Linked DNA regions of Homo sapiens: region 1 is linked to region 2. The links come from fine-mapping of genetic effects on gene expression. A gene starts in region 2. The other region holds a variant in brackets. All regions are shown on one strand. Distances are between the middles of the regions.

Region 1 (9,476 bases), 36 kb before region 2:
ACTCACTAGTGGAAGTTCTCACTCTCATCTACATTACCCAGATCTTCCTGCCAGTCCAGTTCCATTGACTCCTAGAGTTACATACTCTCCTCTTTTCCAATGGGGATTAAGTAGTTCTAATGGGTTATAGCACACATCAGTCTGGTCACTTCCTGGGCTGCATACCTTGTACTGGGTGGCATTATACACACAAGTCCCTTTTAAACAAAGACTGTTTTAACTTTTTGCCCTACCTCAGTCTGAGGAAGGTCAGTTGAAGTCCTTACTGTACAAGTCCAAAATTTATGAAAAATGAGTTCCACGATGAGCTTCCTCATGCTTCAGCCATGCGTGGACCAGTCAGCTTCCGGGTGTGACTGGAGCAGGGCTTGTCGTCTTCTTCAGGGTCACTCTGCAAGGGTTGTCCAGGCTTGGTCTTGCCTCCCAGGTTTCAGGCGCTGCAGGTTTTACACGGCTGCGGTGGATCCAGGCTGGGATTCCCTCTACCTTCACAGCGGTGGGAGTGGTCAGGATGACAGTCTGGGGTCCTTTCCACCGTGGGCACAAAGAGGCTACGTTCCAGTCCTTGATCCATACTCGATCTCCTGGGGAGAAAGGGTGAACTGGGGAGAATAAGCTAACAGGGCATCTCTTATTTACCCAGGCTGAGATTGTTTGTGTAATTTTTCCTAAAGCATGTAGCTGTCGCTGTAACTCAGTCTCACCTAACTCTCCTGGAAGTCCCCACGATAAGGGAGAGGGTCCATGATTAATATTTCATAAGGGGAATATCCTGTTCTTTTAGAAGAGGTACACCTAATTTTAAATAATACCATAGGGAGAGCCTGTATCCATTTTAATCCTGTTTCTTGACGTACTTTCCCTAAACTATTTTTGATAGTCCGATTCATCCGCTCCACCTTTCCGGAACTCTGAGGCCGGTAGGCGGCATGCAGTTTCCATGTGATCCCCAATACCTTTGCCATCTTCTGTACCAAGTCAGCCACAAACGCAGGCCCGTTATCTGAGCCGATCCATAAGGGCAGTCCAAATCTAGGAATCAGATCTTGAAGAAGCACACGGGTTACTTCACGAGGTTTCTCAGTTCGTGTTGGATAAGCCTCCACCCACCCAGAGTGGGTACACACGAGAACTAGTAAATACTTGTTACCTCCACACTTTGGCATTTCTGTGAAGTCCACCTGGAGATCTATCAAAGGGGGCTGCTCCGTAAGTTTGTATGCCGGGTGGAATGGCTGGACCTCGCCTCGCATGATGCTGTTGGCAGGTAACACACTGCTGCATCACCGTTTTGGCAAGGGCTGACAAATGCGAGATGTAGAAATACCGGCCTAACAACTTTTCCAGTGACTCCTGACCTCGATGGGTGGTTTCCTGCACAGCCAGTACAACTGCAGCTCCTCGCAGCTGTGGTGCAGCTACTCTCCCATCTGGTAACCGAATCCATCCTTCCTCCATCACTTGTCCTCCCTCTACCTGGAGAAAGTCCTTTTCATCTTTAGAAGAAGTAGGTACAAGATCAGGTGCTTGAGGGAGCAGAGGCGCTGTGACTGATGCCCAGAAGGGGGCAGATGCTGCTTTTTGAGCCTCTGAGTCACTGCGGGGATTCCCCAAACCCACCAAGGTGGAAGCTCGCTGGTGTCCTCTGCAATGCATAACTGCCACCTTGTGGGGTTTCCATATTGTTTCTAATCATTGCAAGATTTCTTGTTGATATTTTATGTCTTTTCCCCCAGAGTTCAATAGGCCCTTTTCTTTATATAATGCACCATGCACTTGAAGGGTTAAAAAGGCATACCGAGAATCACTGTAAATGTTGACAGTCTCACCCTCCCTGAGCTCTAAGGCCCGAATGAAAGCAATGAGTTCAGCTTTCTGGGCTGAAGTGCCCTGGGGCAATGATCTGGCTTCAACAACGGTGTCCAGGGTTACCACTGCATACCCTGCACATCTCTCTCCTTGTGGGTTGATGAAGCTGCTCCCGTCCACGTATAGTTCCCAGTCTACTGATGCCCAAGGCCAGTCCCGGAGGTCAGGTCTGCTAGAGTCAATTGAATCTAACACTTCTACACAATCATGCTCGACAGGGCTCTCTGATACCGGTGTAACGCCCAAACTCGTTTTTACTAACCCTGTTTTTAGACTCCCCCTTTTCCTTTAATCACGCAGCATTGTTGCCACCTGAATGGACTCTCCCTTAGCTAAGAGAACCAGACAGACTCCATCTTGGCTCTTTCATTGGCAGCCCCTTCCTCAAGGACTTAACTTGTGCAAGCTGACTCCCAGCACATCCAAGAATGCAATTAACTGATAAGATACTGTGGCAAGCTATATCCGCAGTCCCCCAGAATTCATCTGATTGATAATGCCCAAAGCCCCGCATCTATCACCTTGTAATAGTCTTAAAGCCCCTGCACCTGGAACTGTTTACTTTCCTGTAACCATTTATCCTTTTAACTTTTTGACTACTTAACTTCTGTAAAATTGTTTTAACCAGACCCCCCTACTCCCCTTCCTAAACCAGGGTATAAAAATTAATCAAGTCCCTTCCTCGGGGCCGAGAGAATTTTGAGCGTTAGCTTTCTCTCGGTCACCAGCTAATAAAGGACTCTTAACTCGTCTCAAAGTGTGGCGTTAGGACTCTTAACTCGTCTCAAAGTGTGGCGTTTTTCTAATTCACTCGGGTACAACACCGGGAGCAAAGTGGCAGGGTTCAAGATGTTACAAACTTCAGTGGTTATACGGGGATTTTCACAGAGAAAACTTTGGTACTTGGTGAGTGTGGCATTCGTTAGCCAATGATGTCCTTTAGTATTCATTAAAGTCACCACAGCACGGGAGGCCTTTATGTTCAGGTGTTGCCCAAGAGTCAGCTTATTTGCTTCTTGTACTAGCAGGGCAGTTGCTGCCAAGGCCCTCAAACACGGGGGCCATCCTTTAGGAACCCCATCTAGTTGTTTAGAGAGGTAGGCCACCGGCCTCGGCCAGGGCCCCACAGTTTGGGTTAAAACTCCACGTGCCACCTTTTCTCTCTCTGACACATACAATGTAAAAGGTTTTGTCAGATCGGGCAGCCCCAGGGCTGGGGCTGACGTACGTTTTTTCTTTAAGTCAGGCTTGCTGTTGTTGGGATCCCCATTCAAAAGGTTCCCGGTCCCCGCCCCCTTTGTGACCTCATACAAATGCTTGGCTAATACTGCAAAGTTTGGGATCCACAGTCTACAAAACCCCACAGGTCCTAAGAATTCTCTCACCTGCCTTCTGCTCTTAAGCTCCGCTAGATGGCAAATAACCTGCTTTCTTTCTGATCCCAGGCTGCGCTCCCCCTGTCGGACAGTAAATCCCAGTAACATATCTGCTGTCAGCAGATCTGAGCTTTTTTCTTGGACACCTTATACCCACGGTCCTCCAGGTGCCGGAGTAGGGCAGCCGTTCCCTTGGCGCACCCAACTGCCATGGGGTGTCCCAGCAAAAGGTCATCAACATACTGGAGCAATACGCAGCCTAGGTCTCTGGTGGGAAACTTCTGGAGGTCTCGAGCCAACGCCTCCCCGAAGATGGTGGGGGAGTTCTTAAACCCTTGGGGAAGCCGGGTCCAAGTGTACTGAGTAGTGACACCTCACTGCGGATCTTCCCACTGAAAGGCAAACAGCTTCTGGCTCTCAAGGGCTAATCTGATACTAAAGAAAGCGTCTTTTAGGTCCAAGCAGGTGAACCAGCTGTCCTCAGCTGGCAGCAACCCCAACAATGTGGACGGGTTAGGTACTGTTGGATGGAAAGTCACTGTAGCTTGATTAACCAAGCACAAATCCCGTACCGGCCTGTAGTCCTTGGTCCCTGGCTTGGGAACAGGCAGGAGGGGAGTGTTCCATGGAGACTGACAAGGAACTATAATTCCAAAAGTTCTTAGGTGTTTGAGGCGAACCTGGATACCTTTAAGAGCTTCTCTGGGGACTGGGGACTGTTTTTGCCTAACCGGCTGGGCCCCAGGCTTAACTTCCATATTCAGGGGCTTGGTTGACTGCCAATCCTGGAGGGTTGTCTTCCGCCCACACTCTTGGCCACCGCTTAGCCAAAGCTGGTCTTATCTCTTGGCCC[G/A]GCTCAGTTAAGAAAAGTCTCTATTCCTCCTCTCAGGGGACCATAAGGGTCATAACGACTCCCGTTCCGGGTAACTTTAGCAGCAAAGAGCCATGCTCTGTAAAAGAGACAGTGGCTCTCAGCTTGCTAAGCAAGTCCCTTCCCAACAAGGGCAAGGGACAGTCAGGCATGTACAGAAACTGACGAATCACTGTATGTCCTCCTACAGCACAAGTCCGAGGCAAGCAGAAAGCTTGCTTTGCTGAAACCCCCATGGCTCCGATGATGTCAATAGTCTTTTTGGATAAGGGGGCAACTGGGGCGGTTACTACCGAATGTTCAGCAACGGTATCTACAAGAATATCAATGTCTTTACCCCCGACTGTCATGCTGACCATAGGCTCTTTCGGGGCACTTGAGCCCGGTCCCCCTGAGTCCAATAACCCTTCTGCCAGGTTGAGCAGGGCCCCTTCCTCCTCGTCTGGGGCCTCCTGCTCTGAGTCACCTTGTTTTCTTTTTAGCTGAGGGCATTTGTTCTTCCAATATCCTATTTCTTTACAATAAGCACACTGGTTACTCTGCAAGCTCTGACAACCAAGTTGAGTTTTTTCCCAGGGCCCCCTTCCCTGGCCTCTTTGGGGGGACCCCTCTGATTGCTGCAGCTAACAGGTCGGCCTTTCGCCAGGCCTGACGTTCATTCTCTTTGCGGTTTTCCTTACGGCTTACTGCATCCCTGTTTACAAACACCTGGTTAGCTATTTCTAGTAACTGATGTGTTCATCCCTGCAAACCCAGTCTGTTTCTGCAGTTTTCTTCTAATGTCTTCTGCGCTTTAACTAAAGCCATTTGAATCATGCGCTGATTTTCACGGCTATCGGGATCAAAGGGAGTATACATGCGATAGGCCTCACACAGTCTCTCAGAGAATTGTGCTGGACTTTCTTCTTTTCCCTGAATGACCTCAGAGACCTTGTTAACGTTTGTGGTCTTCTGAGCTCCCCTCTTTAACCCTTCCAAGACAGCTTCCCTGTCTCCCTTTAGCCTTTGCATATCCTCTCTTTCATTTGGGCCCCACTGGGGGTCGGTTCCTGGTAACTGGGTCCTTACATACTCTTGGGGGTTTTGATAATCAGCTGGTGCATGTTCCTCTAGCCACTTAGTTGCTGCTTGGAGCACTCTCCACCTTACATCTGCATTAAAGAGGAACATGAGCAGCTGGTGGCAATCAGCCCAAGTGGGGTTATGGGTCTGCATAATAGTTGGGAGCAAATCAATTTGAGCTTGTGGCTTTTCGGTATAGGACGGGGTATTGTTTTTCCAGTTGAGAAGGTCGGCAGAGGTGAAGGGCTGGTACACAAAAACACGCCTCTCCACCATGTGACCATCCTCATCTCTCCCAGTATACTGCTGCTCTCTCAGGTGCATTTGTATCCCAGTTTTGGGTCTTAAACGAGCTGCCAAGGGAGGGGTTTCTCCCGAGGCTTCACCTCCTCTCTTGTCTATTCTGGGTGGCCTAGGGATATGCTTGTCTTGCAGAGGTGCAAGCACTGTGGGCTCAAGACTGGGGAGCCTCTCTCCCTGGTAAGGGGAGGGCACCACTGGGATCACTGGTGCCATCTCCTGCAATGGATCTTCTGATGTTGGGTCAAACAGAACTTCAGGAGTTGATTTCCCTGGGCGGGTGGAGCGGGATCCTTCCTTGGCTATCTGTCCCTTTGCTACTAGCATTGCTGCTGCCTGCCCTCTTAGCCACTGTGGGGGGTCTAGCACCAGCTGTAACCAAGTGTCTATGTATGGGAACTGGTCTAGGTATCCTTTACCGGTTACCTTGTGCCACACCTTAGAAACAAGGGAACTGTCCAGGCTTCCTTCTGATGGCCAACCCACTTCTAATGTTGGCCAATCTATTTCACACAAAGTTCTAAGTTTCCCTGGTGTCATAGTAACCCCATAGTCTCCATTAAATCCTTCCTTGAAATTTTTCAACATAGTTCCTAGCGGAGTGGGCTTACTTTGTGTCTGACCCGTTTCCTCGAGACAAAACACCACGCTCACACCACACGCACACCACAGAACAAAGAACAGGTAAAAAAGGCACACACACACTTTCTCAGTTTACACCAGACCAGAATCAAAACCAAAACTGGAGTATCCAGAAATCCAAGCCAGGTCAAAACCAAAACCAAAGTATCAAGCAATCCAAGTCAAGTCAAAAACAAGAACCAAAGTGCCGGTACAGGCACACCATGGGTGATCAAGCCACACTTCCACTCAAATGGAGTGGGCAAGTTCCAAAGACCAGTCTTACCAAGTTTCAGATGTCCAGACCAGATGTTCAGTGCCAGTTCCTTCCCGGTGTTCAGCCATTGCGTTGAACCTCCACCGGGGCCTGCCACGCGCTGCTCTGACGAGGCGTTCCACCGGGGCAATTTCCTACGTGGGAGCGCTCTCAGGATCCGCGTTGCTGGAGCTGGTCGGAGTCCCCCGCAGGGATGCTCCACAGGGCAGGCCTAAGCGGCCTAAAGGGCTGCCTCAACGGTCCGTTAATCACCTCGTTTCCCAGTCAGGGAACCAAGAAATGTAACAGGACCAGCGGCAGACAAAACTCCTCAGACACCGGATTAAAGAAGGAAGAGGTTTTTTCATTCGGCCGGGAGCATTGGCCGACTGGTGTCTTAAGAGCCCAGCTCCCCGAAGACAGAGTTCCTGGCCCTTTTAAGGGCTAAGTGGTTCCACGTGAAAGGGTCGTGATGGATTGAGAGCACCTGTGGTTAGAGTGGGGGGGGCGGGGCTTAATCTTTTAACCTCAGGCCGGGTCATCAGTGGCACAAGCTGGTCTTGCCACTGACTTCATTCCTGTTGTTTTTCAACTTTTACTTCCTCCTCTTTTTCAGAGACAGGAGACAGTAAGAGAAATGGCTTCTCGCCTCACCACCTCACACCCATTAGGATGGCTACTGCTAAAAAAAAAAAGTGTTGGTGAAGCTGTAAAGAAATTGAAACATTTGCAGGGCCGTACACGGTGGCTGACACCGGTAATTCTAGAACTTTGGGAGGTCAAGACGGGAAATCACTTGAGCCCAAGAGTTTGAGACCAGCCTGGGCAACATAGCAAGACTCTATCTCTACAAAAAAAATACGAAAATTAGCCAGGCATGGTGGTGTGTGCCTGTGGTCCCAGCTACTCGGGAGACTGAGGTGGGAGGATCGCTTGAGCCTTGGAGGTGGAGGTGGCCCCACTGCACTCCAGCCTGGGGGACAGAGCCAGACCCTGTCTCAAAACAAACAAACAAAAACTCATTTGCGTACTGTTGATGAGAATATAAAATGGTACAGCTGCTTGGGGAAATACTATGACATTTCCTCACAAAAGCAAAAAAAGAATAACCAAATGGTCCAGGAATTCTTCTGGGCATATACGCAAAAGAATTGAAAGCAGGGTCTCTAAGAAATATTTTCATACCCGTGTTCCTAACAGCATTATTCACAATCACTGAAACAGAAGCAACCCAAGTGTCCACCCACAGGTGAACGGACAAGCAAAATGTGGTATATACGAACCACGGAATATTATTCAGCCTTAAAAAGGAACACAATTCTAGCTGGGTGCAGTGGCTCATGCCTGTAATCCCAGCACTTTGGGAGGCCAAGATGGGTGGATCACGAGGTCAGGAGATCAAGACCATCCTGGCTAACACGGTGAAACCCCATCTCTACTAAAAATACAACAAATTCGCCGGGCGTGGTGGCGGGCGCCTGTAGTCCCAGCTACTCCGGAGGCTGAGGCAGGAGAATGGGGTGAACCCAGGAGGTGGAGCTTGCAGTGAGCCGAGATCACGCCACTGCACTCTAGCCTGGGCGACAGAGCAAGACTCCGTCAAAAAAAAAAAAAAAAAAGGAACGCAATTCTGACACATGCTACAGGGCGGACGGATCTTAAGGACACTGTGCTAAGCGACACAAACCAGTCACATAAAGGCAGATGCTTTAGGATTCTACTTACGTGAGGGGCCTAGAGCAGTCCAATTCATGGTGACAGAGTGGAAAGGTGGTTGCAGGAGCTGGAAGGGGATCGTGGGAGGTTGTTGAATGAGTGTACAGCTTCAGCTTTACAAGGTGGAAAGAGTTCTGAAGATGCTTGGTGGCAATGGCCGCACAGTATTATAAATTTACTTAATGCAACTAAGCTTTACACTTAAAAAGGGTTAAGATGGTAAATTTTATGTTATGTCTGTTTTACCACAATTTTTTGTTTGTTTGTTTGAGAAGGAGTCTTGCTTTGTCATCCAGACCGGAGTGCAGTGGCGCGATCTCAGCTCACTGCAACCTCCACCTCCTGGGTTCAAGCATTTATCCTGCCTCAGCCTCCTGGGTTGCTGGGATTACAGGCGTGGGTCACCACGCCGGGCTAATTTTTGTATTTTTAGTAGAGATGGGGTTTCGCCATGTTGGCCAGGCTGGTCTCGAACTCCTGACCTCAAATGATTAGCCCACCTCGGCCTCTCAAAGTGCTGGGATTACAGGCACGAGCCACCATGCCCAGCCTATTTTACCACAGCTTTCAAAATGGGAAGAAGATAAGAGATTCTATTCATCAAAAGATTCCAGGAAGAAAAGGAAAAGGCAAGTTAGAAAGTGGAATAAAATATTTGTAATATATGTAACCAAAAATAGCCATTTTCAGTCATTTCCATTTTATTATTTAAAGAAATTTTATGAAGCAGCAAGAAAAATGATCATTAACACAATAGGAAAAATAGACAAGAGGCCTGACCCAGCACTTCACCAAAGAGTGTATTTAGCCATTCCAGACGGGGGAGGCGGGGAAACAGGTGAATAGGAAGGGCTGTCTGGGGTGGGGGGAGGGGAGGGGAAACAGGTAAAGAGGAAGGGCTGGCTGGGGTGGGGGGAGGGGGAGAAACAGGTGAAGAGGAAGGGCTGTCTGGGGTGCAGGGAGGGGAAACAGGTGAAGAGGAAGGGCTGTCTGGGGTGCAGGGAGGGGAAACAGGTGAAGAGGAAGGGCTGGCAGGGGTCTGGGGAGGAGAGGGGAAACAGGTGAAGAGGAAGGGCTGGCAGGGGTGGGGGGAGAGGGGGAAAACAGGTGAAGAGGAAGGGCTGGCAGGGGTGGGGGGAGGGGGAGGGGAAACAGGTGAAGAGGAAGGGCTGGCAGGGGTGGGGGGAGTAGGGGGGAAACAGGTGAAGAGGAAGGGCTGGCTGGGGTGGGGGGAGATGGGGGAAACAGGTGAAGAGGAAGGGCTGGCCGGGATCAGGGGAGAGGGGGGAAACAGGTGAAGAGGAAGGGCTGGCAGGGGTGGGGGGAGGGGGAGGGGAAACAGGTGAAGAGGAAGGGCTGGCTGGGGTGGGGGGAGAGGGGGAAAACAGGTGAAGAGGAAGGGCTG
Region 2 (9,476 bases):
TGAACATGGTTGAGATAACATTTCTCAGAGAGACTTAACAAGTGAACTAACTCTTTGCCTAAGAGATGGAGAAAGTGAGCTCCTAGCAGAGTTTCTGAAGTAAAAGATTCCAGTTGCTGCTTCCCCAGGAAGGAGGGTCCTGGGGAACTTGGGGTGACACAGGGCAGCTGTCTGGGCCCCCTTCAGGGCAGGAGCACTCCATGGTCCCCGGCTGCCCAGCCCAAATGACAGTCCCGGGCTGAGGTTCCCCAGGGGCAGCCCACGTCCAATGGCCGTGCAGGGGGTTTAGAGGTGTAAATGTCCGGCCAATTTCCTTGACAGGGGCCATCTGAGGGGCTGCCATGCTCCAGGGCCCCCCGAGAATCAGCCGAAGCCTCCATCGTGGCCGTGTGACCGCTTGGCTGCCCCCTGCCCCATCCTGTCCTGGGGGTGCCCCTGGCCAAACCCTCACACATAGGTCTCTCAAGTCCATGCAGCTCCCCCGCCCTGGGCAGGCTCCTGTCCAAGAGGTCGTCTGGGTCAGAGATGCCCACTTCCTCTGGCCTTTGTCACCTCTGCCTTTTACTCTGCAAGGTTTTCCTGCCTTTGAGGAGGGGGTCACCTGTCCCGCCGCACTCCTGCTGGCCCCTCCAGGCCCTCCTGTTTGAGGAGAGGAGCAAACGTAGAAACAGTGTCTAGTAAGAATAAGGGCCCTCGCCCAATTTATTTTCTGCAGGGAATCAGAGCGAGAAAGTCATTTTCCTCCCAGATCCTGAATTGGAGGCACCCTGCTCTTGAATAAACCCAAGGTGACATGTCCTCATTTCCCACTGACGATGCACGCGGGGTCTCCTGAATAATTCTGTCTCGGGGGCTTATTTTCCGTTTCAGCTTAAAACGCTCCCTCATAAACAGATCATCATCAAGTCACGTTGTCCCCTGACATTGTAAGTAATAAACAGGGTAAAATTCACGCCAGGAAAATTCTAAGAACATAACGATCAAGAAATGAACCCAAATAAAGCCATGCAGAGTCACTTCTGGGGTAAATGGTTTCGAAAATTCTTTTGCAGAAATAGAATTTCTAAAGATTGAATCCAGTGGGCTCCCTGGACCCGGGTGGGAAGGGACTGGCCCCCTTTCTGCGGGCTCCGGGTCCGGATGGAGAGTGCCAGCTGCCCCACCTGGTGGCGGGTCTCCACGGACAGCCGAGCGTGCGCAGGGCTGTGCTCACAGTCATGAATATTCATGTCCTTCTGTTAAACAGCCTATGTCAGTCGGTTTACATACATAGGAGAGCAGTGCCTACCATTTTATTTTTTATTTTATTTATTATTCATTTATTTATTTTGAGATGGAGTTTTGCTCTTGCTGCCCAGGCTGGAGTACAATGGTGCAACCTCGGCTCACTGCAACCTCTGCCTCCTGGGCTCAAGCAATTCTCCTGCCTCAGCCTCCAAAGTAGCTGGGATTACAGGCACCCACCAACATGTCTGGCTAATCTTTTTTTTTTTTTTTTTTTTTTTTTTGTATTTTTAGTAGAGACGGGGTTTCACCACGTTGGCCAGGCTGGTCTCGAACTCCTGACCTCAACTGATCCACCCGCCTCCATCTCCCAAAGTGCTGGGATTACAGGCGTGAGACTGGTATGCTCACCGTTTTGAAAATTTAAATGGTATAAAAGAAGACAACACCAAAAGACAACACCAAAACCTCCCCTCCCCCTTGCTGGCCTTCCACTCAGGCCGCTCACACGGGTCCTGACATCTTCGTGCGTGTTCTGCCAGGTGGCACGCCAGCCCACCCTGATTCTGAAAATGCACCGGGGTGACACTTTACATCATTCTGCTGCAAGCGTTTTCCACTTTCTTATGCTCCCTGGACTCCTTCTGCACTGGGGCACACGGACCCGCCTCCCTTCCAGCAGAGGCCCAGAGGTGCAGGAGGTTCCAGGGTTCATTTCACTCTCCCCATCTGGTCACTTACGGGGGTTCTGCTTTGACAAGGTTGGAGCAGTCCTTGTTGGCGCGTGCCTGGACAAACTGCAAGTAACTTCAGGACGAAGGGCTAAGCAACACTCAAATGTGACCTGCAATTTATAGTTAACAGACACAGCAGGATGACCTCCCAACAGACACTGTGTCCTCCTGCCAGCAGGGTCTGGGGCGCCTGCATCCTTGGGTCCTCCCAGGGGACTGTGGAGCTTCCTTGTGTTGGGGGGAAATGTTGCCTTCTTTCACATGAGTTTCTTTGTTTTTGTTTTGAGACAGAGTCTCCCATCCCAGGTTCAAGCGATTCTCCTGCCTCAGCCTCCTGACAGCTGGGATTCCAGGTGTGCACCACCACACCCAGCTAATTTTTTTTTTTTTTTTTTTTTTTTTTTTAAGTAGAGACAGGGTTTCGCCATGCTGGCCAGGCTGGTCTTGAACTCCTGATCTCAGGCAATCCGCCCTCCTCGGCCTCCCAAAGTGCTGGGTTTACAGGCATGAGCCACTGAGCCCAGCCCTTGAGTTTTCTTTAATTATGACAATGTAACTAATTCTGTAAAGGAAAAGAGCAACAGAGGAACTGCTGGCTTTTCTTTATGAGCTCAGACTTTGGTCCCCAGCAGGCCCTCAGCCATCTCTCCCAGGCGGTCTCTCCACTCCACATGGAGAGTGACCTTCATGTGGTCCCACTGGACTCTTTGTGCCCTTCACAGAAGGCCAAGCAGAGGCCCAGAGGGGAGCAACAGCCACATAGGGACCCAAGAGCCCACCAGAGCCCCTCAGGTGAGACGTGCAGCCCACTGCACCTGTCCCTGCTGCCACCGCCCATCCACCCATGGACAGCAGAGCCCCGGGCTGGGCAGAAAGATGCCAGGAGTCCTCACTTCCTCCATGGCGGATAATGAAGGTGACCCTGCGTGCTGATCCCCGGAGGCACAGACTGCACAGTGAGGAGCCTGACTAGGGGGTCCCAAGGCCAAGGCCAGAGCCTCTCACAACAGGAGAGTCTGACAATGACAGACGCCCCTCCTGTTCCTCCAATGAAGGCCTCACAAGGCACTGTTGAGGCCTCCTAAGAATTTAATAAAAAAAAAAAAAAAAGCACCAACCAACCAATCTCTGAACATCGGTAGCTTCAAAAAAGGAGTACAAGTGTTCCCTGTTTTGAGAAACTATTATTACGTGCCACACACTCTGGCCCAGGAATTCCCCAAGAGCCCCAGGTCACACCCCTCCATGCCCTCCACTGTTCTCTTACTTTGGAATGCAGGGATTAAACTGGTGAATGATTATGAAATCTTAGAGTGGTAAAAGCTATTCCAGGCCTTACCCCAAAGCCAGAAACCACAAAAGAAAACTTGATTGATTTAGCTACAGAAGAACTTCAAACTTGTGTGTAGTAAAAAAATAAAAAGGCAGGACACAGTAGCTCCCATCTGTAATCCCAGCACTTTGGGAAGCCAAGGAGGGTGGATCACTCAAGCCAGGAGTTCAAGACCAGCCTGGGGAACATGGCAAAACCCCATCTCTACAAAAACATACAAAAACTAGCCAGGCGTGGTGACGTGCACCTGTAGTCCCAGCTACTGGGGAGGCTGAGGTGGGAGGATAACCTGAGCCGGGGGAGGTTGAGGCTGCAGTGCCATGATCACGCCACTACACTCCAGCCTGGGTGTACACAGAGTAAGACCCTGTCTCAAAAAAAAAAAAAAAAAAAAAAAAAGGTTGAACAAACAAAAAACCAAAATCCAAAGTCAAAAGAAAAATGACAGAAAAATAAATGCAATGTACAAGAGTATATTGTACTACTGTACAATATTCTGTGTTATTGTACTGTTGTACAATACACTTTTTTTCTGAGACAGAGTCTCGCTCTGTCACCCAGGCTGGAGTGCTGTGGCACCGTCTCGGTTCACTGCAACCTCCACCTCCTGGGTTCAAGCAATTCTCCTGCCTCAGCCTCCCGATTATCTGGGATTACAGGCACCCGCTACCACACCCGGTTAATTTTTGTATTTTTTAGTAGAGACGAGGTTTCATCATGTTAGCCAGGCTGGTCTCAAACTCCTGACTTCAGGTGATCTGCCCAACTTGGCCTCCCAAAGTGCTGGGATTACAGGGGTGAGCCGCCGCGCCCGACCATACATTGCATTTACGCTCTTGTACAGAGTAGCATACAGCACAGAGAAGAGCTAAATTCCTTACGGTAACAAGCTCTTAGAATCCCTAAGAAAAAGACACACAGCCCAACAGAAAAATAAAAAATGGGCAAAGAACACAGACAGGCAATATTCCAAATGGCCAATAATAAAATGAAAAGATGTTCAACATCACCAGCAGTCAAAGAAATTAGGATTCAAGTGATGAAAAGGGCTGTTTCGCCTATCAGACTGCCAAAGACATAACGCAATGACATATCTCAGGGCTGGCAAGAGGACAGGCAAGCGGGCATGCCCGCTCACCAGTGGGTGGACGGCAGGCTGGCCCCGCATTTCTGGAGGGCATTTTGGCAAAATGCAGCATAGTCTTTGGCCCGCCGGCCTCTTCTAGGGATTTGCCCGCAGGAAATGCTCAGAGCCGCTCTAAGGAGGCATCATGAAAGCTGTTCACCACAGCACTGTTTTAAAAACTGTGAAGCAGCATGCCAAAACCTTAACAGCCCATGTCTCTGGGAAGTCACCTTATTAATTAGATCATCTCCCCAAAGTTTGGTAATGAAAGAGTATTATTTCATGAGAAAAAAAAAATTGCTTTTTGAAAAAATTCACGAAGGCATTAAAACAATTCTTTAATGGGTTTCCTGACCCAAAACTGGCCCTCCAGCTTCCCAGGCTGGCATGACTAGAAGCACCCCTCCAAGGCAAGTCTCTGATTTTGATCCTATCAAATCTCTGACACTTTCTAGACAGGAACCGAACCCACAAATTCATCTCCCAGACACGTGTGGATCAGGGCCCAGGGGGCTTACAGAAGCAGCGCGGTGCCCCTGCGCACCATCTGCCCCTTCCACGAGTGGGCGCTGAGGGAGGATCCAGTCGGGTCTGCCCGTTCCCCGCCGCCCGGGGATGCTGAGCACACCCGGGCCACCGCCAGCCTCGGGCACACACCCTGGACCTTTTATAAAACAAAACTGGGAAGACTTTCAAGGTCACATGGTCAGTGCACAGCAGAAGCAGAAACAGCAGCGGCCTCAAGGTCCGGGGCAGTTCCTAGAAACTGTTCCCTCCCCCGAACCTGGCGGCAGGTGTGCTCGAGGAGCCGCCGCCCCGGGCAGGTCGTGCGTCCACTCCCCGCCGCAAGCTCGGGTGGGGCAGCCGCGGGGACACGCGGGGGCCGCCCCCGACCCCGGCCCAAGGCTGTGGGGCTGGAGGGGCGGGCGGGCCGGTCTCAGCCCGGAGCCCCGCGTGAACTTCGGGGAGGAACTCGGTTGGCGCCGGGGCCCCGCACGCTCCCTTCCCGCGGCTCCGAGCGCTTTCCCACGGCCACGCCCCCCGCGCCCAGAACTTCCCGGCGACCCCGCGCCCCCTGCGCGCCCCCCGGAGGTGGCCGCGGTACGGGAGGCGGGCAGCACGGGGCTCGGCCCGGCCCAAGCGCCTTCGCCCCGCACCCCGCGGAGGGGGCCGCGTCCGAACCGGGCGGGGCGGGGCGGGGGCGTCCCCGGGGCGCGGGCGCGGCGGCAGGTGGGCGCGCTCTCGCGGGCGGGGGTCCGGCCGGGCCGCGCGCCTCCCCCGGAACTCGGCCGTGCCATTCCCATGATGCCCAGCCACGGGCACGGCTTCCGGAGTGCGGCCGCCGCCGCCACCGTCCGGTAGGTCGCGGGGAGGGGGCGGCTTGGGGGGGTCGCCCCGCCCCCCGCCCCGCCCCTCCCCTCCCGCGCTTCCCACGGCGCGGCCCGGGCGCGGGGCGGCGGCAGCGGCGGCGCGCGGGGAGGCGGGGAGGCGGGGGGCCCGGCCGGACGCCCCTGCGCCCCCTCCCCGCGCCCCGGCCGAGGGCGGAGCGCGCTGGCCCTGCAGCCTCCGGCCCGCCCCCGGCCCGCCGCCTCCCCCGGGACGTGGGACGCGGGCGCAGGCGGGGTCCGCGCGGCGGGCGGCGGGGGACGGGCGGAGGTGAGCGGGTGCAGGGCCGGGGCCGGGGGGCTCGGGGGCTGGGAAGCTGGGGGGTCGGGGACAGGAGGGCCAGCCAGGCCGGGGCCGGCGCGCCGTGCAGGCCGCGGCGGGCGGGCGGCGGGGGCTCCCCGAGGCAGGCGGACGGGGATCGGCGCCGGGGCTGCTCCGTTCCCCGGGCGGGGATCCTGTCTCTGGCCTCCGTGCGACTCTCGGCCCGCGCGCCCCGCGCTCCTGGAGCCCCAGGTGAGGCGCAGGTGAGGGCCCGCGGTGGGGAGCTTTGGCCCGGCCCGGGGCGGCCGCTGCCCTCCGAGAATGGCCGCGGCCCGGCCGGCCTGGAGACTGCGGTTCACGCCCTGCGCCAGGCGGAGCTTCCGGGAGGGTGGCCGCTCTCCCGGGCCCCAAGCTCGCTAGTCCTCGGATCCCAGAAACATAACTCCGGGGGTGCAGACCTGCTTGGAGGCCCGGCCTCTTCCCTGGGAGGCGTTCACTCCCGCCGGGCCGAGGACCAGGTCGCCGATCCCAGCGGCTAGGGTGAGCGCGCCCTCGGGGAGGGGAGCTCCCTTGGGGGACCCTGCCCAGCCCGCAGGCCGTGAGTAGCCCAAGCTTGGGAGTCAGGGGAGGTCGGGCCGGGGCAGCCGGGAGGGGCTCACCTTGCCTTCAGTTCCCAAGCACAGGAAATGGCGGTGCAGCTTTGCTGGGGGACGCTTGTAGTGAGGTTGTAAAATTGCAGCTTCTGGAAGGCTGGGAGCTGAATTCTAGCCCACGCCCACTTCTGGGTGGCTGGAGCGGGTCCTCCTGCTGCCCCGCCCGCTCCTGCACCGGGGCTCCTCTCCCTGGCCTGCAGACCCTGGCCTCCCTACCCTGGGGGGAAACCCCACCTGGGAGGTAAGACCGCTGGCTGAGCTGCTTTTCGGCCAACCGAGAAATGTAGAGTATTTGGGGGCGTTTCTCACAGGTGGGCAGACTGTTAGGATGGCGAGGGCCCAGTGTGGGTGCTTTGGTTCTCTCCAGAAGGTTGATGTCTGGACCGAGAAGGTACCCGAGTGTTCTCCACCGCTTCCTAAAATCTGACACCGTGTGGCCTTGGGGTGCAGGTGCTGGGTGTCCCCACAGCCACCCTCAAGACCGTATCCTGAGGCAGCAATTTGACAAAGCCTGCACCTCTGGCTTGGGCCCACACCTATCTCTAAGGACTGATTAGGGGGCTTTTCTTGTTTTTTTTTTTTTTTTTTTTTTAGAGCCAGAGTCTCGCTTTGTCGCCCAGGCTGGAGTGCAATGGCTGATCTCGGCTCACTGTAATCTCCGCCTCCCTGGTTCAAGCGATTCTCGTGCCTCAGCCCCTGGAGTAGCTGGAACTACAGACGTGGGCTCCCACGCCCAGCTAATTTATGTGTTTTTAGTAGAGATGGGGTTTCGCCATGTTGGCCAGGCTGGTCTCGAACTCCTGGCCTCAAGTGATCCACCTGCCTCCACCTCCCAGAGTGCTGGGATTACAGGTGTGAGCCACTATCCCCGACCCAGGGGGCTTTTCAAGAATGATTCATCTCGCATAATGTTTTAAAGCCACAAGCTGTCCTGGGGAGACGACCCCCCTCGATTTTTTTTTTTCTTTCTGAGATGGAGTCTCGTTCTGTCTCCTAGGCTGGAGTGCAGTGGCGCGATCTCGGCTCACTGCAACCTCTGCCTCCTGGGTTCAAGCAATTCTCCTGTCTCAGCCTCCCCAGTAGCTGGGATTACGGGCACACGCCACCACGCCCAGCTAATTTTTGTATTTTTAGCAGAGGAGGGGTTTCACCATATTGGCCAGGCTGGTCTCAAACTCCTGACCTCAGGTGATCCACCTGCCTCAGCCTCCCAAAGTGCTGGGATTACAGGCGTCAGCCACTGCACCTGGCCAGATTTTTTAATACCATTCTTGAACTAGGTGATTTGACAACTTAGAAAACTGTTCACTGGGTGTCCAGGCCTTCTCTGCAACCAGTCAGAAGCTGTAAATGTGGCTAGTGGAGAACAGACTATTTCCCCAGGAAAACTCCCCTCCCCGACCTTGTCATCTAGTGTAAAGACACTGACTTGGGCCGGTTTTCTTAAGGTAGTATTTAAGGTAGTATTCTTAAGGTAGTATTGCTGTTTAAGGAGTCAATAGTCTTAATTTAGACGCTCCTCAGCCCAAGGCTAATGCAAATGTTTTGTCATTTATGTCATTTTGCAGAGGCAATTTGAATAACACCTACAGTAAGGCAGGCGTGGGTTTGCTAGCCAGTGAAAGAGCTCCTCTCGCATTGTTGGTCCCCCAGTGCTCTGTGTCAGTGGGGAATCTCTCCAGAAGGTGACTTTATGGGGGATGTCATGGGCTGCAGTGGGTGGCCAGAATTTGAGAACTAGCAGATAACGTCACATACGTGCCCCATCCCCATCACTTCAGCCAGCATCAGATCTGCTGTCCAGGATAGCTATACATTACTTGTGGTTAAATGTATTTGTCTTAATACATTAAGTTAAATATATTTGTACTTGTGGTTAAATGTCTTAGAGTAAGTTCCTTCAAAAGTTAATTTTGAGCCCTTAAGTTAATGATATTTCTTTCCAAAAAAAAAAAATTTATCAACTGTAGCTTCAGCCTGTAATTAGATGCCTCTGATTCTCTTTGATTCTGGTAGTCAAAAGTCTATTGAAAAAGCAGAGAGAGAATGCCTCGGTGTGTAAGTGGAGTGATGAGGACCTGATCTCTGGGCCGTGTGGGAACACTGGCTGCCATTTCATCACAGTCAACCTGGACTCACAGAATTTCAAGTAATTTCAAGTAATTCTTGTATTTTAGTTTCCCTTGTAGGGCACAAATTGGTGCTAGCAAATGACTTACTTCTGAATCTGTCTCACCCCCTGGTTAATTGCTGGTTACCCCTTTTGGGCTCACCTGTGTGTAGGTGGCCAGGCTCACCTTTTGTTTCTTTTTCTTTCTTTCTTTTTTTTTTTTTTTTTTTTGAGATGGAGTCTCATTCTGTCGCCCAGACTGGAGTGCAGTGGCATGATCTCAGCTCACTGCAAACTCTACCTCCTGGGTTCGAGCAATTCTCCTGCCTCAGCCTCCCAAGTAGCTGGGATTACAGGCATGCGCCACCATGCCCGGCTAATTTTTGTGTTTTTTTAGTAGAGATGGAGTTTCACTATATTGGTCAGGCTGATCTTGAGCTCCTGACCTCAGGTGATCCACCCGCCTCGGCCTTCCAAAGTGCTGGATTACAGGCGTGAGCCACCACACCTGGCCACAGCCTCACGTTTTTGTGAAAAGATGGTGGCATGTAAATACCCAATTATGTGCTTGTCAGGAAGGAAGCGCCTGGTTAACCGGAGAAAGCTCCTGGTAAAGAAGAATCCATAACAGAGGCAAAACATACTGGCC

What was found. PIP is the estimated chance that this variant, and not a neighbour inherited with it, causes the effect. A credible set is the group of variants that fine-mapping cannot tell apart.
Region 1: its variant is the best candidate, but not a certain one, in a credible set for the expression of PPP1R26 in whole blood (TOPMed, PIP 0.76).

Annotation. Positions count from the first base shown.
Region 1 is chr9:135,437,485-135,446,960 of GRCh38, forward strand. It overlaps LOC124902306 (a long non-coding RNA gene), which reads right to left and starts at 6,767. Exons shown (of 2, transcript XR_007061850.1): 1 at 6,386-6,767; 2 at 1-584. The variant G/A (reference allele first, on the strand shown) is at 4,099.
Region 2 is chr9:135,473,950-135,483,425 of GRCh38, forward strand. It overlaps PPP1R26 (protein phosphatase 1 regulatory subunit 26), which reads left to right and starts at 5,833. Exons shown (of 4, transcript NM_014811.5): 1 at 5,833-6,073; 2 at 8,734-8,866. RefSeq lists silencers at 6,355-6,414, 6,425-6,474.